Linked DNA regions of Homo sapiens. The protein of the gene in region 1 purifies or fractionates together with the protein of each later gene. This does not show direct contact. Each region holds a gene or a part of one and is shown on either strand. Other genes may lie near its edges.

What was found.
Region 2: the proteins of UCP2 (region 1) and MUC7 purify together in Homo sapiens (affinity purification with mass spectrometry; 3 studies listed by BioGRID and IntAct, with this or other methods). This does not show direct contact.
Region 3: the proteins of UCP2 (region 1) and CST2 purify together in Homo sapiens (affinity purification with mass spectrometry; 3 studies listed by BioGRID and IntAct, with this or other methods). This does not show direct contact.
Region 4: the proteins of UCP2 (region 1) and AMY1C purify together in Homo sapiens (affinity purification with mass spectrometry, with the first as the bait; 3 studies listed by BioGRID). This does not show direct contact.

The regions. Positions count from the first base shown.
Region 1 is NC_000011.10:73,979,826-73,987,040, forward strand, and holds the start of UCP2 (dicarboxylate carrier SLC25A8), read right to left. Parts: upstream 3,019-7,215; 5' UTR 2,896-3,018; intron 1,808-2,895; 5' UTR 1,651-1,807; intron 1,105-1,650; exon of another isoform or gene 847-1,104; intron 228-846; exon of another isoform or gene 111-227; intron 1-110. UniProt on the Homo sapiens protein: Antiporter that exports dicarboxylate intermediates of the Krebs cycle in exchange for phosphate plus a proton across the inner membrane of mitochondria, a process driven by mitochondrial motive force with an overall impact on glycolysis, glutaminolysis and glutathione-dependent redox balance.
Region 2 is NC_000004.12:70,468,180-70,475,204, reverse strand, and holds the start of MUC7 (mucin-7 precursor), read right to left. Parts: upstream 3,009-7,025; 5' UTR 2,914-3,008; intron 1,199-2,913; 5' UTR 1,184-1,198; coding exon 1,130-1,183; intron 1-1,129. UniProt on the Homo sapiens protein: May function in a protective capacity by promoting the clearance of bacteria in the oral cavity and aiding in mastication, speech, and swallowing. Binds P.aeruginosa pili.
Region 3 is NC_000020.11:23,823,719-23,830,870, forward strand, and holds CST2 (cystatin-SA precursor), read right to left. Parts: upstream 3,012-7,152; 5' UTR 2,943-3,011; coding exon 2,715-2,942; intron 1,606-2,714; coding exon 1,492-1,605; intron 386-1,491; coding exon 302-385; 3' UTR 51-301; downstream 1-50. UniProt on the Homo sapiens protein: Thiol protease inhibitor.
Region 4 is NC_000001.11:103,746,035-103,752,903, reverse strand, and holds the start of AMY1C (alpha-amylase 1C precursor), read right to left. Parts: upstream 3,007-6,869; 5' UTR 2,838-3,006; intron 2,481-2,837; 5' UTR 2,435-2,480; coding exon 2,267-2,434; intron 1,922-2,266; coding exon 1,775-1,921; intron 972-1,774; coding exon 774-971; intron 326-773; coding exon 95-325; intron 1-94. UniProt on the Homo sapiens protein: Calcium-binding enzyme that initiates starch digestion in the oral cavity.

The DNA.
Region 1 (7,215 bases):
AAAAAACAAACCCCAAAAAACCTAAGGACTTCTTAGATAAGGTAACATTTAGCTAGGTGATTTTGGGGGCTGAGAGTAAACTCTGGGGCATTAGACTCCTCCTGGCCTACCATGTGATGCAGAGAAAACTGCTCTCCTTTTTGTTTGGGCCAGTTTCCTTTCCTCCAACTTAGGGGGATCCGCACTTACACCACAAGACAGGCAGGGATGAGGGGTCCAGGTCAGAGCTGTGAAGAGTGATAAAGTAAACCAAAAGCCCCATTTTGTTCTGAGTTGGAACCACACCCTCCTCCACTGCCCCAGGAGGAAGTGAGCCCAGCACCCTAGTGGGGGAGGGTGACCTGCTTCTTCCCCTGAGCTTATTTCTTTGACTTCATTGGAGCAGCTGCTTTGAGCCCCGCCTGACTGCCTTTGTTGCTGGGGCTCAGGTGAAAGGGCTGGCTGGTGAAGGGAGTCAGCTGTGAACACAGAGACCCATGGAAACAAACAGCTCACCCAGCTTCCTCTTGGGCTTCTCACTCCAGGTGGCTGGGGCAAGCAGGGAAATGAAGATACTCACCATAGCAACTACACTGGGACCTATAGAACAGGGCCTGACCTTATTCCTGTTTCCCTCCAGCTTGCCCACGAGGCTCAGTGAAGACTGGTGCTCAAATGACAGATTGGGTTGATGAAGGTGCCCTCGGACTCCCCAGATTCCCTGCTCTGACACCCCCTTCCCCCAGGAGGTGCTCCACAACTTTCCCCACCCCAACGCCCAGGGCACTGTATTAGCTCAATCCTCAGAGCAGCCCTGCAAGGTGGCTGCCCTTATTTCCATGTGAGATGAGTAAGAGCCACACTTACAGGCACCAAAGCTGGTAGTATTTGCTTTGCACTGCTGCCCAGCTCCTCAGTTCGTTCTTGCTGTTTTATCAGCCCCAGGCACAGACAGGGCCTTTCACAAGGAAAGTTCTCACAGGCTGATTAAACAGTACTGAGAAGGCTCAGGCAAATGGTATCCCTTCTCTGGGCATCAGAGATATGATGACATGAGTCTGTCACATTCCTGACCTTGAGCTGGGTTGCAGGATGTTGTGAAGGCCAGAGAAGAATAAGACCCAGCTGCTGCCCAAAGACAAGTGCACAGAGGTTCAGCTGCCATATTCTGAATGTTGCCTTGGGCTTGCCAAGTCAGGTCCTTCAGAGGGTGGGTAAGATGGCCCTACTAACAGCAATTAAAATGCAGGACTAGAAATAGTTAATCCTATTTTACAGTCCCCAGCAAATAACCAGTTTCAGAGCCGGGCTGATTACCAATCTCGGTTTCAGGGATAGTCAAAAGCTAGCATCAATATGAAGTTAGAACAATAGGTTCCTGTCCTAGCTCTTCTGCTGGCTCCCGGGATGACTTGGGGCCAATCACTGTTACACGTGGGCCTCAGTTTTCTCCTTTATAAAATGGGGACCAAGATCCTTGGCTTGTCCGAGTCAGCTGAAGGGCCAGAATGAGAGCGGGGAGGTGTGAGAGTGCTCTGTGAACTGGAAAGAGCCACTTCACTGTCGGGGGTGGGGATGGTAATTATTTTTGTTAATGCCCTGCTGACTCCTGCCCCTAGACCACAGGGTTAGGAGGCAGCAAGAGACCTCTTCCTTGGACTGGACTCTTACCCGGCTTTGTAAGGTCTCACGGTGAGGCCTCCAAGATCAAGCTTCTCTAAAGGTGTCCCGTTCTTCAAAGCTGCCAGTGGCTATCATGGCCCGATCCCCTTGGTTTTCCATAGAAAATGGGTGGGAGACGAAACACCTAATGGTCATACTATGTGTCCTGTGGGTGAGCAAAGGCAGAGAGTTTAGAAAGGGCCACCTGCCCCAAGACACACAAGCCCACCCAATCCATGCCTTGGAGGGGGATGGGGAACAGGGCCCAGGGACTGGTTAAGTGCACACACTGGAAAGGGGAAAAGCAGGGCGGAAAATGAACCTAGGTACACTCCCCACCCCCACCCCACCTGCTTAATATCACAAATTGGTTCTCATCCAGACTTCTGCTTTTGTAACACTCAGTACTCTATATAAGCACCCCCTAGCACAGTCATCAGACTTTGGTGAGTGGGAGAGTTGTGAGGGGGTCACGATGGGACAGAGACTCTCCGGGAATTGGCTAGGTCCCAGGTCGGGCTGTGAGGAGGTTGGAAGGGCTGGGAGCCGGCCCTGCAGAGGCCAGATTGAGCAGCTCAAAGCCCACTAGAAAAAGCCCCCAAGCCCTGGGAAAGGCGGTGCAGGAACACTGCCTGGAGCTGCCTGGTAAGGGAGAGGTCATTGTGGTCATCGCTGATGGTCCCCATCCAAGGCAGGGCTCGGCATCGTGGTGGAAAGGAGGGAGTGAAAAGGTGGAGGCTCAAACGACAGCCAACTGAACGGGAGAGGGAAAGAACAAAAGGGACTAAGAAAAAGAGAGAAGAGAAATAAAGAACCAAGGACAGAAAGGATTAGCACAGGCCGGACCCGGAGGCTCATGCCTAAAATTCTAGGACTTTGTGAGGCCGAGGCGGGCGGATTGCTTGAGCTCAGCAGTTCGAGGCCAGCCTGGCCAACATGGCGAAACCCCATCTCTACAAAACACAAAAATTAGCCAGGCGTGGTGGCGGGCGCCTGTAATCCCAGCTACTCGGCAGGCGGATCGCTTGAACCTGGGAGGTGGAGGCTGCAGTGAGCCGAGATCGCGCCACTGCACTCCAGCCTGGGAGACAGAGCGAAAGCCTGTCTCAAACAAACAAACAAAAACAAAAAATAAAACCGAGAGAAAGAAAAGAGTACAAACTTGGGTGGGAGAGAAGGTAAATGGAAGAGCGGGCAGCGCACGCAGAACAAGCGTGGGGGGCGCAAAGGGCGCAGGGCTGGGGCCAGGCTCACCGAGCCGCAGGGAGAACACGGCAGTGCGTGCGGCTGTGTCTGTCGGCTGGCGGAGGGCGCGTCGGACGAGCCGGGCGAGCGTGGACAGTCAATCCCAAGGCGCGCGCAGCTGGGCTTCGCAGTGGGGCTCCGCGCAGGCGGCGGCGCGGCTTAAGCCTCGGGGGCGGGGCCCGGGGTGGGGCCTGCGGGGCGGGGCCGGGCCTGCCAGCTCCTACTTGGGTGCGGAGACCCTGGAGCAGCCGCCTTTCCGCGGGGACCGCCCCGCCTAGGGTTCTCTCCATGACTTTCTCCACTCCCGTTTCCGTGCGTCCCATCACCGCGTTTACTCCTTCGTTCCCCGAGATGGTCACTCCCTTGCCACTCCCCGCCTCTGCCTCACACTCTCTCGGGCCGCCAACCTCTGTGAGGATGGCAAGACTGACCGCCAGAAACAAGTCTTGTCCAGTCACACACCTCTTGCCTTCCCAGCCAGGACGGTTTCTAACAGCGTCCAGCGGGGCCGTGTCTTAAGTGCACTTCCTCTTTTATGGGCCCAGCCCCCCTACGCTGGGCAAACTACCCACCCTCCTGCGAGCGAGCGCGCGGCTGGCTCCTGCAGGGCGGGACTGGGGCCTCGCGACCGGCCTCGCTGTCGATTGGTTACAGCCGCCGCGTTGTCGGGGGAAGGAACCAATCAGAACTGCAGCAACAGGTGGCCCGGCAACCGACAACAGCCGTTGGGCTCGGCTGGGGTTCGCGCCTTCTCCCCCGGTGGAGCGGCCTGGCGTTTAGGGACCAGGACACTAAAGGCCCCGGCGGGGCGGGAGCACCCAGCGTGACCTCACGCTCCTACACACAGACAAGCAAACGGGCCGGCCCCCGCACGTGACAAGGCAGAGCCGGGCCCAGGCCAGCTGCCTGTCCAGCCCTGGGATGAGAAAAGGCGTCAGGAGATGGACCGGGCCTGGTTCGCCTTTAATTGGCTGACCCGTCCTGTGGGGGTAACTGACGCGTGAACAGCCAACAATTGGGCCCTCTGGCCGGGACAAACACGTGCGTTTGGGGAGTAGAAGAAGGCTGGTATTAACCTCCATTTTACAATGAGGAAACGGAGTCCCAAAGACGTTCAGTCATCTTCCTGATATTCACACACTTACACCCTGGTCAGGCCGGCGCCATATGTGTTTTCACCAGCAGAAGGGACTGCCAGGGAACAGCTGAGGGGACCAGAGCTGGGATGGGCCTGGATAATTATAGCGGAAAGAAAAACACGCCGAGCGCATGGTCCTGGCAGAAGCAGCGTGGAAACAGAAGTCAAGGCAGATTATTTCTGCCATGAGGAGATCTTGCCATGTAGGAAAAAAGAAAGAAAGAGAGGAAAGAAAGACAGAGAGAGAGAGAGGAAAGACAGAAAGACAAGAAAGAAAGAGAAAGAAAGAAAAGAAAAAAAAAAAGAAAAGATAAAGTTTTTTTGTGGCACTGTGAGTCTCCCTCCGCCAGGTTCTCTAGCTTTTGCGCTGAGCTCTGTCTGGCTGTGCATTCCGGAGAGGCTCGGCAAATTTGCTGTGAGATTGCTGAGCAACAGCAGAACAGATGCAAAGGCCTGCAGACCAAAAATTGTCCCCCTGGCTGTCCAAACAGGGAAGAATCTGGATTCCAGAAACTATATACTTATTATCCTTGGCAAAAGAGACTGTTAAAAGTGTGGACGCTGAAAAAGGGAAGTGGAGATCAACAGGACGCAGCATGAAGTCCTTAAGAAGTCCTCTTTGAAAAAGAAGATGTGTTTAGGGTTTAAACTATTTTTATTATTTATTTATTTAACTTATTTTTTGAGACAGGGTCTCTTTTTGTTGCCCAGGCTGGAATGCAGGTGGCTGGGTCTCAGCTCACTGCAGTCTTGACCTCCTGGGACAAGCAGTCCTACTTCTGCCTCCCTAGTAGCTGGGACCACAGGGATGAGCCACTAAGCCTGGCTAATTTATTTATTCTTTGTAGTGACAGGTCTCCCTATGTTGTCCAGGCTGCTCTTGAACTCCTGGCCTCAAGCAGTCCTCTGACCTCGGACTCTCACAGTACTGGAATTACAGGTGTGAGCCACTGTGCCTGGCCTCAAGAAATTCTCTTAAATTCTTTCAGGGTGGGGGCAGATCTGAGCAATCCTATAGACATACAAACGCTGCACCCTTGGATTTTTAGCAGCTTGCTCAAGTCATAAGATGTCCTGTGGACAAACTGGAGAATGTATGGGTACAGATAAATGTATTTTGAAAACTTGTAGCCAGGTGAGGTGGCTCACGCCTGCAATCCCAGCACTTTGGGAGGCTGAGGCGGGCAGATCACCTGAGGTCAGGAGTTGGAGACTAGCCTGGCTAACATGGTGAAACCCTGTCTCTACTAAAAACACAAAAATTAGCTGGGAGTGGTGGTAGGTGCCTGTAGTCCCAGCTACTCGGGAGGCTGAGGCAGGAGAATCGCTTGAACCCGGGAGGCAGAGGTTGCAGTGAGCTGAGACTGCGACATTGCACTCCAGCCTGGGCGACAGAGCAAGACTCTGTCTCAAAAAAAAAAAAAAGAAAACTTGTTTCACATCTATTTCATTGAATTGTGTGTACACGCACACACACACACGTTTATTTGTAAATATTTTGTATGTGCCAATAACCAAATTGACAAAGTTTCATATATTTTGTTGTATAATTTTAACATCATCCCAGGAAACAATCCACTGTGCTTACAGTTTTGGAACTTCTAAATCTTTAAATACAAACTGTATTTGAAACACTGAAAATGAAAAAAAGACACAAGAATGAAAGAGAAAACTGAAAACATTAGGTAATTAAAACCAACATGAGAAAAACTTAAACATTTCCTTAGTCTCTGATAATTTCTGCTAAAAATATTGAGTAGATTGGCTATATTAACTTTCCTCCCCTCATCAAACAAGCATACAGTTATCTGATTGCATTTTTAAAAAGAAGTCGAATTTGATAACCATACATTTTAAAAATTGACATGAAACTGAATTTCTTTAAACCCACTTAGCAGATGAGATGGGGCACGGTGGCTCACACCTGTAATCCTAGCAGTTTGGGAGGTTGAGACGGGTGGATCACTTGAGGCCAGGAGTTGAAGACCAGCCTGGCCAACATGGCAAATCCCTGTCTCTACAAAAAATACAAAAATTAGCTGGGCATGGTGTTGCACGCCTATAGTTCCAGCTACTTGGGAGGCTGACATGGAGGATCACCTGAGCCTGGGAGGTTGAGGCTGCAGTGAGCCATGATTGTGCCACTACACTCCAGCCTGGGTGACAGGGTGACCCTGTCTCAAAAAAAATAAAAAATACCTGTAATCCCAGCACTTTGGGAGGCCAAGGCGGGTGGATCATGAGGTCAAGAGATCGAGACCATCCTGGCCAACATGGTGAAACCCCATCTCTACCAAAAATACAAACATTAGCTGGGTGTGGTGGTGCTTGCCTGTAGTTCCAGCTACTTGGGAGGCTGAAGCAGGAGAATCGCTTGAACCTGGGAGATGGAGGTTGCAGTGAGCTGAGATCCTGCCACTGCACTCCAGCCTGGCGACAGAGCAAGACTCCGTCTCAAAATAAAATAATTTTAAAAAACCTCTTAGGAGATTAAATTGAATCATATATTTGTTAATTTCCATGTCCATTTTGATGTTTGTTCTTCTTCTTGGTTTTGGTTTCTGAAAAAAGGGTGGGGAAATGGTGACACAAAGCCAGATGGAATTACTTGACATGTTTGTCACATAATTAACCATTGTAAATGAATTTTCCTTGGTAACACATCCTGGTTTTTTTTTTTTTTTTTTTTTTTTTTTTTTTTTTTTTTTGAGATGGAGTCTTGCTCTGTCGCCAGGCTGGAGTGCAGTGGCGCGATCTCGGCTTACTGTAACCTCCATCTCCCAGGTTCAAGCGATTCTCCTGCCTCAGTCTCCCGAGTAGCTGGGATTACAGGTACGTGCCAACATGCCCAGCTAATTTTTGTATTTTTAGTGGAGATGGGGTTTCACCATGTTGGCCAGGATGGTGTCTATCTCTTGACCTTGTGGTCCACCTGCCTCGGCCTCCCAAAGTGATGAGATTACAGGTGTGAGCCACCGGGTCTGGCCCACTCCTGTATTTTAAAAGTTGAATTGAAAAACACCGAGTTAAAAGATGCATTTTTTCCCATGAATTGTGTGAATGAAATAAAGCTAAATTCACAAAGCATGAACATAGCAGTCGTTCTCATTTTGCTCACAGTTCTAAAAATGCAAATTCTCCCCAACTTCTTAGAGCATGACAGGTGTTCAGCTGGCAATCTTTCCATGTTT
Region 2 (7,025 bases), on another chromosome or scaffold:
CAGGTTCGAGCAATTCTCCTGTCTCAGCCTCCTGAGTAGCTGGGATTACAGGTGCCCACCACCACACCCAGCTAATTTTTGTATTTTTAATAGAGACGGGGTTTCACCATGTTGGCCAGGCTGGTCTTGAACTCCTGACCTCGGGTGATCCACCTGCCTTGGCCTCCGAAAGTGCTGGGACTACAGGCATGAGCCACCGCGCCCGGCCTGTTCATTTCTTTCTTTTACCACATATACAATCCAGCAGAAGATATAGTAGACTCAATCACTAAAATATATCCTAAACCCACTCTTATCTTTTAATTGCTGAAATTTAGTGCAAGTCACCATCATCTTTTATCTGGACCACTGCCATAGCTTCCTGACTAGTCTCCTTATCTCAGCTTTTGTTACCTGCTACCTATCTTCTCCTGAGAATCCTGTCATGTAAATCCCCTGGGAGTGCTTTGATCATGCTGAGACTTCCTGACAGATTTGAAACCATATTCCACACCAAGACCTAAAGGCCTTACAAACCTGGGTTTTCATCTGTGTCAGTTCTCATCACACTCACTATAAAGTTTGTGCTCTATAGATATTGGATAAATGAAACAAATTATTTCCTTATGCTCTATCTACCTACCTACCTACCTACCTACCTAGTCTATCTACCTATCTATCTAGTCTATCTACCTATCTGTATATATTTTTAAGACAGGGTCTCATTTTGTCACCCAGGCTGTGGCATAGTGGTATGATTACGGCTTGCTGCAGCCTTGACCTCCCAGGCTTAAGATCCCAACCTCAGCCTCCGAGTAGTTGGGATTACAGGCACGCACCACCACACCTGGCTAATTAAATTTTGTTGTTGTTGTTGTTGTGGAGATACTGTCTCATTATGTTACTCAGGCTAGTCTTGAACTTCTCTGAGCTCAAGTGATCCTCCCTCCTAGGCTTCCCATAGTGCTGGGATTAGAGGTGTGAGCCAGTGCACCGGCCAATTGTCCATATTTATAGGTTTCCTGGAAATAAAAGATGTCAAGCTTCTTGGAAATAGGGGTTGCCTATTATGCTTTAAAAGTCTCAGGTAGGTACACTAAATGTTTGTTATTGATAGTTAAGGAAAAAACTTATTTGGGTGAATACTTACCGAGAAGCAAGCACTCAGTGCACAGATGCACACAAACAGCGGCAGAGTTTTCATTCTTTCTGATGTCTCCTGGGAAAAGCAGAAATGTGGCGTACTATTAGTTATGATATTATGGGAGAGGAATGCGTTTTGGTAAATAACTTATTTTTATTAGAAAGTACAGGCAAAAAGAGACCAATGGTTTCTGAAAATTATGTATACATTTTCATTCCATAGGGGTGATGCAAAATTGCTTCAGGCCTAAAATGCATTCTTTTAGAGAGGAAGCAATGGAGGAGGCTCAAGAATTATTCTAACTAGTTTGCAAAATGAGCATTTTCTATTGATATTAAAGATTGGCTAGGAAAGGCAGGATCTTAGGAAGTTTAGCAATAAGAAAAGGAAATAATTTTCTTCTTATTTCTTTTCTAATTCAGGAAGCTCCCCTCTGTGGGGAACCATCATATAAATGACCTGATACTACACAGTTTTGCAAAGACTCCTGATGTTAGAGGAAAATGCTCTTTGTCGCTGTGCTATAAGGCTGTCACTTGGAACAAAGAACCAGGTCAAATGGACTCTTCCTCCAATTTCATTCTACTGAAGATTTTGCCATTTGATAATCCTTTTTCTTGTACCTTTTTTTTTTTTTTGAGACAGAGTCTCGCTCTGTTGTCCAGGCTGGAGTGAAGTGGCACACGCATGGCTCACTGCAGCCTGCACCCCCCAGACTCAAGCGATCCTCTCACTTTGGCCACCCTAGTAGCTTGGACTACAGTCATGCACCACCGCTCCTGGCTATTGCTATTATTATTTTTATTTTTTGTAGAGACACGGTTTCACTGTGTTGCCCAGGCTGGTCCTGAACTCCTGGGCTCAAGCAATCCACCCTCATCGGCCTCCCAAAATTCTGGGATTACGGGTGTGAGCCACCGTGTCTGGCCGATACCCTTTTTCTAAGTCCCAAAATGACAGGAATTATTCTTTATTCATTGTTATGTCATCATGCCTAGTACATAGTGCAGACTTAATACATATTTTTTTTGAATAACTACTTGCAAAAGAGAATTGTATTTTGGCTATAGGTTGTAGAAGGGAAGAGTGAGAGAAGAATGTGGTCTTTTGTTTTTCTCATTTTGGTTATATATGTAATGTGTACATGTCAGCTTATCAGCTTTAGAAAACAAAATAAAGGTTAAATCATATAGACAGATTACATATTAGGGCAGGTAATTAGTGTGCATGTCAATGTGGTGGGCTGTGAGATTAGACACACTTTACAATACAATCCCATGGTTTATAAAATGGGTGTTAGAGTCAGTCAGAGACTTGATTTAAGCTCTGCCCACTTACTGTGTGACTCTGCCACTCACTGCATGACTTTGAGTGAGTTGCAATCTTACATCATAAGAATGTCCTGAGGATTGACTGGAATAATATATATATTACAAATCGTACTGAGAATAATGTCTTATCCATAATAAAGTCTCAGTGGTATTATTATAGTACTAGCACACTAAGAAGAAAACAATCTGACCCAATTGAAAAACGAAATGGTTACTTATTATTCTTCAGGTTCCTAATATATTGTCAGATTTGTTTTTAAATTTCAAGACCAAAAAACATTCCTACCAATCATATTGTGTTCTAATAACATATGAATTGAGTGTTACCACACTGTTTGGCAGTTCATAAGAAGAGAGGAGAATAACTGTATTAGAACAACTATTGCTATTACTTAATATATGTATATTACTTGAAAGCTGTTTAGTTTATATTAGAACCTATCTAAAGTATCCACATACCTGGTGCAGTGTGAATCTTTCTTCTTAGGGTGTTCAATCCAGTTGCTTGCTTTTAGCCAATCCTTTGAGGATGGTAACTAGAAGCAAAAGAAGAGAAAGCACAAGAGAATTTTCAGGTTTTATAACACTCCAGTCGAGCTTTTTGGAAATAGGAAATCTATTAGATTTAAGATAAGGTCATTTGTGTCAAGGAATTTACTTTTAAAGAAAAGAATAGTTGTGGTTTGCTGAGATTGACAGTAGTTCTTTGTGCATCAATTTCTTCCTGATGAGCACAGTGACGATCAGAGGTTCTCAATGAGTAACTTATGTGCTTGATGAGTAGTGGAACAGTAATTGAAGGCGCTTACGGAGAAACAAACAACCATGGCCCAGGTCCTCCCAACAGGAACAGATCATCCACTCTTTCCTGTTGGGCTCTCAAAGTAAGCAGAGTGATTGCCTTCTGACAGTTAATGTGATGGAACACCATATTTCCTTGTCAATAAGACAAGTTAATAAAGGACAGAGGATTTAAAAAAAATACTGTGGTGCCAAGTACTGGTGCAGGGCAGTATTTAAAGCCAAAAAATCAACACTGAATTTTTAAATACAAGTAATTAAAAACAATTTTTGACTTTTTGTCTTGAAAAATATTCAAACATATAGAAAAGTGAGGAGGGTAGTAGAACTATATACTCATTCCCTGGTTTTCATAATTCTTAACATTTTGCTATATATCTTAGTTGTTTTGCTGAAGTATCTTAAGGTAAACTACAGAAATTGTAACAGCTACTCTCTATTTCAGCATTTCTCTCTAAAAAGCCTTTCTTTTATAACACAACACCATCAACCTATAACAATATTAATAATTCAAACATATAATCTAAAATTGAGTTTATACTCAAATTTTGGCAAAAATATTTTTAGTCATTTTGTTCCTACCAGGACTCAACTAAGGGCCGTGTGTTGCAGTGACTTGTTATGTCTCTAGTTTCTTTTATCCCAGAAAATTTTCTCCCATTTCCCCCATGGTAGTGATATTTTGATAGCTAGACTAGTCATTTTATAAATATTTATTTTTAAAAAGAAACTTAATAACTTAAAAAAGAACTTAAGAATCATTTTAATAGAGATCTTCAAAATTAGATATTTCTACTATGTAAAATCGTTAATCTGGAATACAGTTTTGAAGGTGTGATTCCACTTCTAGCTAGTCAGTTTGTTCTTTTGCACATACAGTCTCTGAGGGCTTACATTCTTTGGGTTTGATTCCTTGCTTCTCCACTTAGTAGCCATGTAATTTTTGACAGGTTAGCTAACTTCTTTGAGCCTCAGTTTTTCTATCTGCTAATTAGGTGTGACATCTACTTTACAAAGTTGTCAGACTGAAAGTAGATAAGTTAAAAGTTCTGACATGGTTCTTTTGAATGGAACACCCTCAGCTATTATGCTGCCATTAGTGGAAAGTTAGGGACAGTTTTTGAGATAGCAATGAGTTAGTAAATATGGGCTATAATATTAATTTCTTTTCATCTTTTTTTGCTAGCAACTAGTGATATGCATTTACAATATACTTGTTATAGTTAAAATTGACTGTAGAATATAATTTTTATTGATCTGAACAAGCTTTTCTAAGTACATGACTTCAATAGAAAAATTTTCATATCACCTTGCTATTACCCAATTAGTGATAAGTTGTAATGACCTCAAAAATTGATAGAATTTCAAAAATTGTCTAATTATCCTCAGTCCTAAATAATGCCTGGAGATAACAAATTTAATTTTCTTTAAATATTGGAAAAATATAAGAATATCTGGACATATTATGACTGAATCCAGTACATTTCAGGTTTTATTTTTCAATAAATGAGTAACACTTATGCATTTATTATTTTAATTTTTTAAAAATTATATTCTCTTGGGATACATGTGCAGAATGTGCAGGTTTGTTACATAGGTATACATGTGCCATGGTGGTTTGCTGCACCCATCAACCTGTCACCTACATTAGGTATTTCTCCTAGTGCTATCCCTCCCCCAGCCCCCCACCTGCCAACAGGCCCTGGTGTGTGATGTTTCCCTCCCTGTGTCCACGTGTTCTCATTGTTTAACTCCCACTTGTGAGTGAGAACATGCAGTGTTTGGTTTTCTGTTCCTGTGTTAGTTTGCTGAGAATGATGGTTTCCAGCTTCATCCATGTCCCTGCAAAGGACATGAACTCATCCTTTTTTATGGCTGCATAGTATTCCATGGTGTATATTGCCACATTTTCTTTATCCAGTCTATCATTGATGGGCATTTGGGTTGGTTCCAAGTCTTTGCTATTGTAAATAGTGCTGCAATAAATATATGTGTGCATATGTCTTTATAGTAGAATGATTTATAATCCTTTGGGTATATACCCGGTAATGGCATTGCTGGGTCAAACGATATTTCTGGTTCTAGATCCTTGCAGAATCGCTACACTGTCTTCCACAATTGTTGAACTAATTTACAGTCCCAGAAACAGCATAAAAGCATTCCTATTTCTCCACATCCTTTCCAGCATCTGTTGTTTCCTGACTTTTTAATGATTGCTATTCTAACTGGCTTGAGATGGTATCTCATTGTAGTTTTGATTTGCATTTCTCTAATGACCAGTGATTATGAGCCTTTTTTCATATATTTGTTGGTTGCATAAATGTCTTCTTTTGAGAAATGTCTGTTCATATCCTTTGTCCACTTTTTGATGGGGTTGTTTGCTTTTTTCTTGTAAATTTGTTTAAGTTCCTTGTAGATTCTGGATATTAGCCTTTTGTCAGATGGATAGATTGCAAAAATTTTGTCCCATTCTCTAGGCTGCCTGTTCACTCTGATGATAGTTTCTTTTGCTGTGCAGAAGCTCTTTAGTTTAATTAGATCCCATTTGTCTATTTTGGCTTTTGTTGCCATTGCCTTTGGTGTTTTAGTCATGAAGCCATTGCCCATGCCTGTGTCCTGAATGTTATTGCCTAGGTTTTCTTCTAGGGTTTTTATGGTTTTAGGTCTTACATTTAAGTCTTTAATCCATCTTGAGTTAATTTTTGTATAAGGTGTTAGGAAGGGGTCCAGTTTCAGTTTTCTGCATGTGGCTAGCCAGTTTTCCCAACACCGTTTATTACATAGGGAATCCTTTTGCCATTTCTTGTTTTTCTCAGGTTTGTCAAAGATCAGATGGTTGTAGATGTGTGGTGTTATTTCTGAGGCCTCTGTTTTGTTCTATTGGTCTATATATCTGTTTTGGTGCCAGTACCATGTTGTTTTGGTTACTGTAGCCTTGTAGTATAGTTTAAAGTCAGGTAGCATGATCCCTCCAGTTTTGTTCTTTTTGCTTATGATTGTCTTGGCTATACGGGTTCTTTTTTGGTTCCATATGACATTTAAGTGGTTTTTTTCTAATTCTGTGAAGAAGGTCAATGGTAGCTTGGTGGGGATAGCATTGAATCTATAAATTACTTTAGGCACTATGGCCATTTTGATGATATTGATTCTTCCTGTCCATGAGCATGGAATGTTTTTCCATTTGTTTGTGTCCTGTCTTATTTCATTGAGCAGTGGTTTGTAGTTATCCTTGAAGAGGTTCTTCACATCCCTCGTAAGTTGTATTCCTAGGTATTTTATTCTCTTTGTAGCAAATGTGAATGGGAGTTCTCTCATGATTTGGCTGTTTGTCTATTATTAGTGTATAGGAATGCTTGTGATTTTTGCCCATTGATTTTGTAGCCTGAGACTTTGCTGAAGTTGCTTATTAGCTTAAGGAGATTTTGGGCTGAGAAGATGGGGTTTTCTAAATATACAATCATGTCATCTGCAAACAGAGACAATTTGACTTCCTCTCTTCCTATTTGAATACCCTTTATTTCTTTCTCTTGCCTGATTCCCCTGGCCAGAACTTCCCATACTATGTTGAACAGGAGTGGTGAGAGAGGGCATCCTTGTCTTGTGCTGGTGGTTTTCAAAGGGAGTGTTTCCAGCTTTTGCCCATTCAGTATGATATTGGCTGTGGGTTTGTCATAAGTAGCTCTTATTATTTTGATGTACGTTCCATCAATACCTAGTTTATTGAGAGTTTTTAGCATGAAGGGGTGTTTAATTTTATCAAAGGCCTTTTC
Region 3 (7,152 bases), on another chromosome or scaffold:
AGAAACCCTGCCTGTGTGCACATCCCCAGACAGCCAAGAACTCAGAGGGAGGTGATGCTACTGTTTAATTGCAGGAGGTGGGGGTGTGTGTACCATGTACCAGGGCTATGAGAAGCAAAAGGAAGGAGGGAGGGCAGAGTCCCCTGCTGAGCAACAAAGGCCTCCTGCAGCCTTCTCTGTCTTCTCCTGCTGCAGGTGCATGGGGAGACCTCCCACAGGGTGGGGGCCACCAGTCCAGGGGTGGGAGCACTACAAGGGGTGGGAGTAGGAGGTGGTCAGTGTGACTCCCTGGCACAGATCCCTAGGCTTCTTGACACCTGGAATTCACCAGGGACATTCTGTCCTCCCAGGGAACTTCGTAGATCTGGAAAGAGCACAACTGTTTCTGTGAAAGGGAAGAGAGAGGGCCAATCAGTGTGAGTTACAGTTAAAGGGGAAGTCACCCAGGCATGAGATGTCACAGCCTGAGTGAGGAGGATGGAGGTGAGACACTGGGCCCTCACCCACCCCTGCTGAGTCCCAGAGCACTGAACTAGAATGAATAGTGACTGTTCCATTGCCCCTCCCAAGGCTCCAAGTCACCAGGTGGCATTGGGCCCCCACCGCAGCCTGCAGTGTCCTGTCCCAGCACAGCCCTGTGAGGATCAGCCTGTGCAAGACCTTGGGAGCCCCAAGGGTGCAGGGCATGGGGAGGTGGCTCACTTCCCCCAGCTCCTTCCACCTCCAGCACTCAGGCCAGCACTAAGAGGGGCCAGAGGGAAGAACCCAGAGCAGGGCAACTCCGCCTCAAAGAGCTGGGGCATGGGGCAATGGTAACAAGGGGAGTGTGGCTCTCCCCTGAGTGGAGACCTCACAAGAACCAGCAGGTCCCTGGAGAGGCTGGTGTTGGGTGAGCCGGGCAGGTCCAGGGCTTCCCAGCTAACAGGCCTCTAGGTCCCACTAATCTGATCATTGTGTCTGTGGCTGCATGCAGGTACCTGAGGCTGGGATTAGACAGAGCCCCTTCTCCCTGCCCAGCACACAGCCCCACAGCTGCTTCTTCCTGTCCAACAGGCAACACCCCAAAGCAGGCAGAGTTGATCTCCCAGTAACCATTCCCAAGCTGAAGGCTTCCTAGCAAATCAAACACATCACCCTCCTCCCTCACCACCCCATCTGCACACACATAGGCAACTACGTAAACTCACTTGGACCCCTCAACCCCATGGATCTATGTACAAACCCCCAGAATCCCCACACACAGGCACACATGCTCCCATACAGCTCCCTGCACACACTGGCACATGTGTGTACACACATGCACCTTTCCACATGCACATCTACATGCACAACCCTCCACAAGTACATGAACATGTATACATCCATGCATACATGACTCCCCACATACCCACCTGCACACACACACCCTCCAAACATGTGTAGGGCAGAGACTGACACATACGCACCCCTCTGCAGTGCATGACTGGCCTGGGACCCGCATCAGGAACGTACCTTCTGCAGTTCTGGCTGTTCATGGAAGGCACAGGTGTCCAAGTTGGGCTGGGACTTGGTACATATGGTTCGGCCCACCTCTATGTCGAAGAAGTAATTCACCCCGCCCACGATCTACACACATGAGAAAACAGGATGCACGGACAGCGCCCCCATCAGTTCATGCACTCACAGGCACTTCACTGTGGCTGAGTCACTGGACTTGCTTGGGGGCTTCGTGAGCTGCCCACATGTCAACACAAGGCACACAAGCCCCCTCTTCCTGTCAGCTGGCAGGGTGCTGGGCCTCATGCCCCCTCTTAAATATTGTTTTCTCTGTGCTGGGTAAAAGGATTCATTGAATTCTGCCACCTGTGGCTCAGGGGCAAGGGAACACTGACTCTTTTTACCCATGGGTGTCAGTTTACCCATGTATAAAATAGGCGTCCGGGCCTGATGGTCTGCAATGCCCTGTGCTTCACTCCAAGTTATTGTCATGCTTGAAAGGGAGGTGGAGGCAAGCGGGGACCATGGCACCAGGGAGTGCACCTCCCGTGCAGGGTGAGGGTCCCAGTTGACAGCTGCAGGAGGAGAAATGGGGCTGGTCTGGATTCCTTTGAATTTCCAAGAGAAGGTGGAGGAGCTCTAAAGCCTGTGTCACTATTTGCTGCTCTGCCATGGGATGCAGGTAAAGCTGGGCCCAATAGCCCTTCTGAAGCTCTCTCTTGACCTGACACCTCCTCCTCTCTACTGGGTAACTGCTGTCCTCATCTGGCTGAGGTCTAACTCTGCATCAACTCATAGAGGCAGGGTCAGGCGTGCTCCACCCCAGCAGGGACTCAGCTGCCCTGGGCTGTAGGGGGTGGTCAGCCGGCCTGAGGGTGAAGGCCATTAGCCCTAAAGGGCTGTACCCACGGGTGTGACTTGGGGAGTGAAGTAGGGCTCTGCAGAACAGGAAGCGAAGTTCCTGTGTGGCCCCTGAGGAGAGGACTCAGGGAGGAGGGTGAGCCTCATGGCCTGGATCTCATCCTGAGCAGCATCAAGCCCATCCAGAGTCAGCATAGTCTCCATCCCCCGGGAGCATGCTTAGGCATGAAGGCCATAAGCAGAGAGTCAGGGAAAGCTGAATGAATCTGAGCATTAGATCATGAATGTATCAGTGTTGATGTGCTGCGAATGCTCTTATGGATCGGGCAACAAACAAGGCTGGGACTCAGGACCCCTCAGGTGGAGGCAGCACCCACCTGCTCCCTGGCTCGTAGCACCCGCAGCAGGCGTCTGTAGTACTCATCTTCAGTGGCCTTGTTATACTCGCTGATGACAAAGTGAAGGGCACGCTGTACCCGCTCATCATTGAGGTCTGCATCATAGATGCCACCCTCGATTATCCTGTCCTCCTCCTGGGGGCTCCAGGCCAGGGCCACAGCCTGGGTGGCCAGCAGGAGCAGCAGGGTGCACAGGGGCCAGGCCATGGTCTCCTCGGAGGCAGAGCACAGAGCTGGAGCTGCAGGAGAGGAGGTTGAGAGCCTGAGGCGGGGATCCCAGACCAGCAGGCAGCTGTGCATTTATCCTGCTTTGGCAGCTCAGCCCCACCCCCCTCCATGACCTGCCCCTGACTCCTCCTCCTCTTTCTGCTCATTCCCTCTTTCTCCATCTCTCTTTTCACTCCTCAGAAACCACAAGATCCCTCCCTGCCTAAGTTCTCCCTGCCCCTCCCAGGCCTCCTCCTCTATCTACCCCTCCTCCCCACTCCTGTCCTCACTGCAGCCTCCCCGAGCCATGCCTCTCTTCCCCAGTGCTCCCAAGCTTGAGTCACCAGGTCTCCACAGAGATGACACTTCTCCTTTGGCTATGAAAACAATGTGACCTCCTGTTTGCTCAGAAAAGTGAAAAATACAGGGCTTGGCCTCCGGGGTCTTCAGATATCAGAGGCATCCAGGAGCACTTGGTCACGGTCTCTGAATCTCTGGAACAGGGAGGTTATTTCAGAAGGTTCCAGAAGACCCTGTCCACACCCTATTATGGAGAATTTCTTTGCCAAATTCAAGGGAATTAACCTTTTTTGAAAAGGTCACTGGGTTCTCTTTTCATAACTCATTATTCAATAAAAAAACTTATCACCAGCTACTCCCCGTGCCAGGAGGTCTAGGGCTTGAATACTGAACCTGGATGATGAGCCATAGAGGTGACATTGCAGAGCTGCTGCCCACAGAGATGTGACATGAACCCACGAGCATATGAAAATGTGTAGTAGATGCATTTTAAAAGATGAGAAAAAATGGGTGAAAGTAATGTTTAAAATATTTATCTAACCTAATACAGCCACAATATTATTTCAGCTAATAGGAACTATTATTAATGAGATTTTTTTTTTGTTGGAGGGGTTTTGTAAATCTTTGAAATTCGCTGTGTATTTTTTACACTTAGCCTGGGAGTCATTTTGGACTGGCCCCATTTCAAGTGTCCCGTGGCACATGTGGCAGGTGGCTATGAAACTGTACAGTCCGTTCCTACACAGTGTGTGTAGGGGATGATAGGTTATGGTCAACAATTAGGATCAGGGAGTTATACTCACTCTGTTGGAAGTGAAATAGAACAGGGGCTAGAGAGAGACCACTGGACCCTGGTCAGGGTGGTCTCTATGAGACTGGAGAGGTTGAGAAGCCCCAGGCATTGGGGAACAGCCAGTGCAAAGGCCCTGAGGTGGGATTGGGACATGCCTGCTCCAGGAAGAGGAAGCTCCTGGAGGGGATGTGAGCAGGGAAGGGAATGACCTGGTGTCTCATGGTAACTGTGGGTGGGGCCCACAAGGTGCAGGGAGACACCTGGCAGGCAGTGGGGGTGTCAGAAGAGGGAGCAGAAGCCAAGGGATGAATGTGGGAGCCCACAGGCCTCACTTGCTTCTCTCCTAGGCAGCCATGCTTCCAGCTTCTTTCCTCTATGCACTGCTTGGAAGACCCACCTGATATTTTAAAAATTGCCTTGAAGGAGGTAGAATTTACATACAGTAAGATGCCTAATAGTATGTGCCCACCTGGAAGATTTTGTAAATACATACACCTGTATTACCACTTTGTCCAGACCTCTGACATCTGCCTTGCCCCAGACGGTGTCCTCCTGCCTCTGCAGCTCATCCTCGTGCCCACCCCACCCTGGCAGCCCCTGTCCAGTCCTGTAGACTCCTTTGTCACCTGCCCTTGAGATTCCCAGGAATGGAATCCTGCAGAGCAATCCCAGATGTGTCTTCGTCCTTTGCTCAGCGTGGCTTTCCAGTGGCCCCCAAGTTGCTTCATTGCCAGGATTGGGAGTTCTCCTTCTCCACAGACTGAGAGGACCTAATCACCACAGTGCTCTGTGGGGTGACAAAGTCTCCAGCTTGGGATGCTGTGGGCCTGTGCTGGAATGTGGCTCCAGGATTGGGGAGGATGGAAGGAGGCCCTGAACAGACAGCTGCTCCCTTTGTTCTCTCAACCCAACCCTCCATGCCTGAAGGTGACCCTGTGGCAAATGCCCTTGTGGTGAGGTGGAAGGCTTGGTGAGAAACACCAGGAAACCCTGGGCCTTTGCATGGCATCCAGAGGACTCTCCTGGGAGTAGTGGAGGTGAGGGTCAGACAGAGTCAACCCAGAGCTGCTGGGATCCTGGGTCTCAGCCGTGGCTGGGGCTGCATCAGCAGGACCCGGCAGCAGGAACAATATTACTCATTGGTGTTCATGTTCAGTATTAGGACAGGGGACCTTGTTATCCAAGGCCCAGTGACCATTGCACACCACTGTCAATCCAGCACACCTAGAAAAACCATGCATCCCAGCAGATACAGCAGGTGTCCCAGGGATGGTGTTTACCGCTGGGTGATGGAGGGAAGGTCTTCAAACAGGGCTGCGCAGGATGGCTCCTAGTTAGACAGGGAATGGGGATAAATTCCCAGAGAAGGGAGAGAGAGGGAAGTCCCTTACCAGGTGTTTGTGAGCAGAGTGGTCATCTCCAAAGGGTAGGACTTAGTTCTCCTCTGTGGCTCCCACCTTCCTGGGATAGCTGGGAGTCCAGACTCAGGAAGAGCTGCTGTGCAGAGGATAAGCTGAAGGTCAAGAAATCCTCTCATTTTTTTTTATCACTGGAAAGGAGATGCAGGTTGAAGGGGTGGCCTGCCCCTCCACACCTGTGGGTATTTCTAGTCAGGTGGGATGAGAGGCTGAGAAAAGAAATAAGACACAGAGACAAAGTATAGAGAAACAACAGTGGGCCCAGGGGACCGGCGCTCAGCATACCAAGGACCTGCACCGGCACCGGTCTGAGTTCCCTCAGTTTTTATTGATTATTATCTTCATTATTTCACCAAAAAGGAACATAGCAGGAGGGCAGGGTGATAATAAGGAGAAGGTCAGCAACAAACATGTGAGCAATAGAATCTACGTCATAATTAAGTTCAAGGGAAGGTACTATGACTGGACATGCACGTAAGCCAGATTTATGTTTCTCTCCACCCAAACATCTCAGTGGAGTAAAGAATTACAAGGCAGTATTGCTGCAAACATGTCTCGCCTCCCACCATAGGGCAGTTTTTCTCTCATCTCAGAATTGAACAAATGTACAATCGGGTTTCATACTGAGACATACAGTTCCCAGGGGCAGGCAGGAGATAGTGGCCTTCCTCTATCTCAACTGCAAGAGGCTTTCCTCTTTTACTAATCCACCTCAGCACAGACCCTTTACAGGTGTCGGGCTGGGGGACAGTCAGGTCTTTCTCATCCCACCAGGCCATATTTCAGACTATCACATGGGGAGAAACCGTGGACAATACCCTGCTTTCAAGGGCAGAGGTCCCTGCAGCCTTCCGCAGTGCATTGTGCCCCTGGTTTATTGAGACTAGAGAATGACGACGGCCTTTATCAAGTATACTGCTTGTAAACATTTTGTTAACAAGGCACATCCTGCACAGCCCTAGATCCCTTAAACCTTGATTTTATACAACACATGTTTTTGTGAGCTCCTGGTTGGGTCAAAGTGCCTGGGGCAAAGCTACAAAATTAAGAACATCTCAGCAAAGCAATTATTTAAAGTACAGGTCTTTTACAAAATGGAGTCTCTTATGTCTTCCATTTCTACATAGACACAGTAACAGTCTGATCTCTCTTTCTTTTCCCAAACAGGTAACCCAAATAGTGAGAATTTGCTGGTGGGTGGAGTGTGAGGGAGGGAGGCCAAAGTGCTGATCTGTGCCGTGTATGTGATGACACCACCAGTGGTCATCTTGTGTCAGGATGCTGGCATGCACTGCAGGGAGGGTCAGCTGTCCTGATGCAGCAACCTCTCTAATCTCAGTAGGAAAGATACCAATGTATGTTGCTTTTCTGAGGAGGTACAAGTGCGATGTCCAGTATGGAGTGATAGGAAGTGGCAGGTGGGGGTAGCTGGCCAGCTGCTCCAGATGTTTGATGACCTTAGGCAAATGTTGTGTCTGTTGTGCGTGTGGAGAAAGAGGCTACTTTTTAAAGCGTATTGTCTGGGAGTTCAGACCAGCAGAGATGAGCAGACTTTACCAGTGATGTAGCAACATGTTTGAAAATGATGGAATAGCCAGGTGAGGTGGTGCACCTGTAATCCTAGCTAATTAGGAGAGTGAGTCAGGAAGATTCCTTGAATCCAGGAGTTCAATTCCAGCCTGTGAAACACAGTGAAACC
Region 4 (6,869 bases), on another chromosome or scaffold:
CTTTATCCTACAGAAATTGCATTTTTAATTGAATCTGCCGTGAATTTTCTAATGAATAGGATGATATTTTATATGCCTATATGTATTGACGTACCTCCTGGTAAATGAAAGGTTTACTACCTTCCGGGAACCAGTTACTGTTTAGATTATGCAGTTTGTCCAAAATTGCCTTTATGTCTCCAGGCCACATGTGCTTGGAAGCATCAATTCTGAACCCTGCAACACCAATGTCAATGAGATGGTTCATATATTCGGCAATCTTAGAACGCACATAATCCTTCCCCAGTGCAAGATCGAGAAGACCAGACAGACGACAATCTCTGACCTGTTGAGGTAAGAATGTTATGATTGATTAATAAAACCTCACTTTTCGCCTGAGAATCCATTTGATTATTCATTTATTCCATGATTCCTCAAGAGATATTCTATGGTGACTTCCTTGCATTGGACACTGGGGATGCTCACATTCTACTATAGATGTATCTTGGAAATATTTTCTAATAGAAAATAGAGAACTTAGGAAATAAAGTCGATGAGTTTTTCAATTGGTTGGGAGCTTTTTAAAAGTGGACAAATGTGTATTGATTAAAAATCTTAAATCAATATTTAAAGGTTTTCAAATATGGATTTGAGTTTCTTAAAGTAGTCAAACTTGTTAACCTCTGTCCCTAAGAGATCTAAATTCATATTTACAACGAAGTTCAATTAGCTACATGTCTACAACAAAAGGCATATATCACTCCTTATTCAGATCACTCTCGTAAAAAAATTACCTGAGTAGCATCATTATAGTTCTCGATATCTCCACTTCCAGTTTTACATTTACCATCATTAAAATCCCATCCAGAATATGGGACTGCTGGAAAGTCCCTACTTCCAGGGTTGAAGTAACTTCCACAGGTACTGCTTGTTCCTGCACTCACAGCATTACCACACATATGATTAATTACAGCATCCACATAAATACGAACCTAGAAAACAAAGTTTCTAATTCAGTGTGACTTACAGAGAGGCAGAAATTTAAAGAATTATTGATTAAATTTATAGTGTGCTAATAAAATTCCAAAATATTTCATACCTTATAACTATTTTCCTACAAGATCAAAAATCAACTGTGAAAGGAAAGTAATGTGAACTAAACACCTACATTCATTCCAGACACTTGGCCAAATATATATAGGAATGATAAACTGAGAGAACCGGAAACTACCATAAATAGGAGGAAAGGCAAAAAGCCCATTTTGGGGAGACACAACTCAGATGAGACTGAAAAGGTTACTATTTGGGAAATTTCAGTGGGTCACCAGGAGAAAGCCTGTACTCTCTACTAAGCTTGGAAGACAAATAAGGTAGCTATTCATCTCAAATTCTGCTCCTCATTAAATAGATAAGCTACCTATTCACCACAAAAAAAACCCAAGAATTAGGAATGGAGACACAAGTCATCTAAAAATGAGAGCAAATATTGTAACTGGAATTAAAATTCCTCACCAGAAAATCCTTCCAGGAAATATGGATAGTTATAGCGGTTAAAATTTGATGTTTTGCTTCAGAAGTAAACTCTGCTATAAACTTTAACTTATCTCTTTAGTAGAGAGCACATATACAAATATTTTCAAAAATTGAACATAAGGTGACAGTTACTTTTGAGTTTTAAAGTATGAAGTAAAATTAAAACTGATATGGAAAACTTTCTGCTCAAAAGGAGCAAGAAAGAAGAGACAGAAATCATTTTCCTATCTGTTATTTTTAAAGGAAACTAGAATTCACTTACCCCAACATTGTTGCATCTAGTCACCATGTTTCTAAATTCATCTTCATTTCCAGATCTTGTGCATAATTTATAGCTAACTGGTTGGTATCTTTCCCACCAAGGTCTGAAAGGGTTGTGAATGGCAACATTTTCATTTGGTGGAGAGACCTACAAATTAAACAGTCTTCATAAGTACCAAATTCTGTCTTACTGTATATCATTGAATGTTCTAGAATCTAATCAATAATACAAAAGATTCTTGAATCTTGGTATAGGCAGCTATCTCTTGAAAATATTAACAGCACATCGGAGGGCTCTTGTTGAAGAAAGATTATATCAGAAACAAAATATACAGTTGCAAAGAATACTACATTGTTTTTTCCTCAGAAAATTCTTTTACTTAGAATACTTACCTGTGAAGTAAAATGTTGCCCAAGCTTCACGTAGAAGATCAGAATAGTGTTTACTACAAGCACAGTGAATTCTGCAATTGATACTATGAATCATACCCACCTGAACCCCTCCAAATCCCTTGGGAGCTAAATATCGCTCACATTCAAGAGCAATATCAACCCATCGCCATTCAAACAGATGAACAATAGATGTTCGTCCTTGTTGTGTATTTGAGGAATACTGAGCCCAGCAGAACCCAATGGTGAAAAGCAACCAAAAGAGCTTCATTTTGCTTTGAAGTTGTCAGTGTCCTTTCCAGAAACTATTTATATTCCTGTAAGAAGCACATTTTACAATGTAAATAGTAGCATGAATAAATACTTGAGGGCAAACTGTTTATTCATAATCTGAAAAGGATTATCAATAATAATCCTAACTGGTGAAGAACATCAAAAAGTCTCTCATGGAAATCATCTCAATGACCTCTTAGACATTAATGTTTCTTTTCTTTTCTTTTTTTTTTTTTTTTTGCATATGGTAGCACTTTTATTTTTCCTTACACAATGACATGTTGCTGTGGCCTAATGTTCTCACATAACAGCAGAAAACCAAAATTTGTTGTCAACTCTTAAAAGATCGAGAATTGCATACTAAAAAACTTTACATAAATTAAAAGGATGAATACATTTACCGGTATAAATGCGAACCGCTTCCAACTCAAGGCAAGTAACAGCCCACGGTGCTCTGGTAGATAACGTAAGCTAAGAAAGGAAACTGGGTCCTATGGCTTGGACTTTCCAACCCTGACAGACCGACAAGACGGAAACAACTGGTTCAGGAGCCCTTCCCAGCCTCTAGATAAATCTCAGAACACTCAGCCCTGACACATTAATACCCTGCACGGATCAGAGACTGCTGACCACACAGACTCACCAAGCCAGACTTGTCTTCCACAAGCACGTTTTTAGCCATGAAGTGACCAAGCCACGTGTACTAAACACTGACATCAAAGGTATGTACAGATACCAAGGGGAAGAGTTAACTTGAATGCCAGGCCAAAATCAGCAACAAGTTCTACAATCCAGTGCTGATATTGAGAAGAGAGAAAGACCCTGTCCTCTTGTTTTATATTGTTTTCTATTCAGTAAAAACAACAAGGAAGCAAAATCAAAGGCACAAAACCAGGCCTGGGCCTGGTTGGCCTAAACCCAGTAGTTACAAATCAACTTATGATTTAGAAGCCGATGTTATTCATAGATTCCAGACATTGTATAGAAGAACATTGTGAAACTCCCTTCCATATTCTGTTTCTCCCTGACCACGGGTGCATGTAGTCCTTGTCGCATATCCCTGGCTTGTTCAAATCAATCACGACCCTTTCATGTGACATCTTTAGTGCTGTGTGCCCTTAAAAGGGACAGAAATTGTGCACTTGGGGAGCTCGGATTTTGAGACAGTAGCTATCCGATGCTCCCAGGTGAATAACACCCTTCCTTCTACAACTCGGTGTCTGAGAGTTTTGTCTGCCGCTTGTCCTGCTACATTTCTTGGTTCCCTGACCTGGAAGCAAGATAACTGATGGACGGCCGAGGCAGCTCCTTAGGCAGATTAGGCATGCCTTGTGGAGTAAGGCCGGGGCATCCCTCAGGCTGCCAGGGACTCTGGCCAGCCTGAGGGATGGGATCCAAAGAGCGCTCCCAGGTAGGAAATGGCCCCGGTTGAACGCCTCGCCAGAGCAGTGATCCCCGCGGAGGATTAACACAGTGGCTGAACACCAGGAAGGAACTGGCACTTGGAGTCCAGACATCTGAAACTTAGTAAGACAAGTCTTTTCAACTTGCCCCACTCCACCTGAGCGGAAGCTTGGCCTGATCGCTCATGGTGTGCCTGCACCCATATCAATTTCCATATAGAGATTCCTAGTTACAGCTAGTTTTAGATCCTCTACAGTGGTAAAAGGACAGGCAGCAGCAGTAGTAGTAGCAAAGGGACATTTATTTCAGGAAAGTTCTCGCTCCACCGGCCAAGAGAAGCCAGCACCTAAAGTTCTGTTTGACCCAGAGCTCGAGGACTCAAGGCAGGAGATGGCACCAACAGTGCCCTCAACCCCTTATCCAGTGGGGAGGCCCCCTTCTCCTGAGCCCACAGCCCCTAGACCACCCAGAGTAGACAAGAACAAAAGTGAAACTGCGGGAAAATCCACTTCCCTGGCAGCCCGCTTAACGGCCCAAGACGGGAATTCAAATGCCCTGAGAGAGCAGCGATATACTAGGACAGATGAGGTCAGACATACGGTAGAAAGGCATGCTTTTGTGTATCACCCTTTTACCTCTGCTGAACTACTCAACTGGAAAAATAACACTCCATCTTACACTGAAAAGCCTCAAGCCCTAATTGACTTGCTTCAAAGAATTATCCAGACTCAGAATCCTACTTAGGCTGATTGCCACCAGCTACTCATGTACCTCTTTAAAACACATAAAAGGCAACAGGTGCTGCAGGCAACAGTTAAATGGCTGGAGGAGCACATCCCAGCCAATTATCAAAGTCCCCAAGAATACATAAGAATTCAGCTGCCAGGAACGGACCCTCAATAGGATCCAAATGAAGGACCAGATATGGAAAGGCTAAGAGGGTACCGAGAGGCATTAATTGAAAGGTTGAAAAAAGGGGCTCAAAAGGGTACCAATGTAAATAAAGTTTCTGAAGTCATCCAAGGAAAGGAGGAAAGCCCAGCCCAGTTCTATCAAAGACCGTGTGAGGCCTATTGCATGTACACTCCTTTCGATCTGGAGAGTCCTGAAAATCAGCCGTTGATTAATACGGCCTTAGTTATTCAGAGTGCAGAAGATATCCAGAGAAAATTGCAAAAACAGGCTAGGTTTGCAGGAATGAAAACCTTGCAGTTACTGGAAAGAGCTAATGAAGTATTTGTAAATAGAGATGCAACAAGCGGCCAAGAAAGCCGTAAGGAGGGCGAACGCCAGGCCAGGTGAAACGCTAGTTTGCTGGCTGTGACAATTAGAGGAATTCTCCTGAAAAGGCAGAAAAAAGGGGGTTCTGGGAGGAATGCCCTGTCCAATCACTCACATTTGCAGCATGACTAATGTGCCTACTGTAAAGAAATAGGACATTAGAAAGATAAATGTCCCCAACTCAAAGAAAATCAGAGTGATGCAGAGCCAAAGACCTCAAACCAAGATGAAAGGATTTTGTTCAATCTAGCTGAGGGGCTGCTAGAATTAAGGGGAACAGGCTCAAATGCCCCCAAGGAGCCCATGGTCAGGATGACAATAAGGGGCAAAGACATTAAGTTTTTAGTGGATACAAGAGCCGAACACTCAGTAGTAAGCACTCCAGTGGCCCCCTCATCTATAAAGACGATTGATAGAATTAGAGCAACAGGAGTCTCTACCAAGCAGGACTTCTGTCTACCGCGCAACTGCTCAGTGGGAGGACACAAAGTGATTTATCCATTTCTGTATATGTCTGACTGTCCCTTGCCTTTGTTGAGAAGAGACTTGCTTAGCAAGTTAAGAGCCACCATTTCCTTGACAAAACAAGGCACTTTACAGCTGGAGTTGCCAGAAACAGGAGTCATCATGGCCCTTCCAGTCCCCCAGGAAGAAGAGTGGAGACTTTTGCTAACTGAGCCAGCTCAGGAAATAAAAGTGGCTCCAGCTGAGTGACGGCTCTGAGTAGAGATGGAGGACAATCCTCTGAGGCTGGCAATCAATCAAGCCCCCGTACTCATAGAAGTTTAGCCTACGACCTAGCCAATTGGACAAAAGCCGTATCCTGTTCCCAGGGAAGCCTTTAAAGGAATAGAGACTCATCTTATATGCTTAAAAGCCTCTGGAATTCTAGTTCCTTGCCAGTCTCCATGGAACACCCACCTCCTACCTGTCCCTAAACCAAGGACCAAAGACTATCGACCCGTACAGGACTTGAAAGATGCCTTCTTCACATCAGGCTAGTTCCTGAGAGCCAAAAGCTGTTTGCCTTTCAGTAGGAAGATCCGGAGTCAGATGTCACCATTCAGTACACTTAGACTCGACTTTCCCAAAGGTTCAAAAAGTCCCCCACCATCTTTCGGGAGGCCTCGGTTGGAGACCTCCAAATGTTTCCTGCTAAAGACCTAGGTTGCATCCTGCTCCAGTATGTAGATGACCTTCTGCTAGGACACTCCATGGCAGTCAGGTGTGCAAAAAGGACGGGTGCCCTGCTTCGACACCTGGAGGACTGTGGATATAAAGTGCCCAAAAAGAAAGCTCAGATCTGCAGACAGCAGGTACACTACCTAGGATTCACTATTTGAAAAGGGGAGTGCAGTCTATGGTCAGCAAGAAAGCAGGTCATCTGCAGCTTACCAGAACCTAAAACCAGGAGGCAAATAAGAGAACATTTAGGAGCTGTGAGATTTTTGCAGACTGCAGATTCCAAACTTTGTGGTGTTAGCCAAAGCATTGAATGGAGTTATAAAGGGGGTGACCGAGAGCCTTTTAAATAGAGGTCTCTACAACAACAAGACTTATAAGTTAAAAGAAAAACTTATGTCAGCCCAAGCTGACTCTAATGTAACTCTAAGGAACACCAAAAGACACCATTGGCTAACAAATGCTACATTAACTAAACACCAAAGCTTGTTATGTGAAAATCAATGTATAACCATAGAAGTCTGTAATTCTTTAAATCCTGCCACTTTGCTCCCAGTATCAGACAG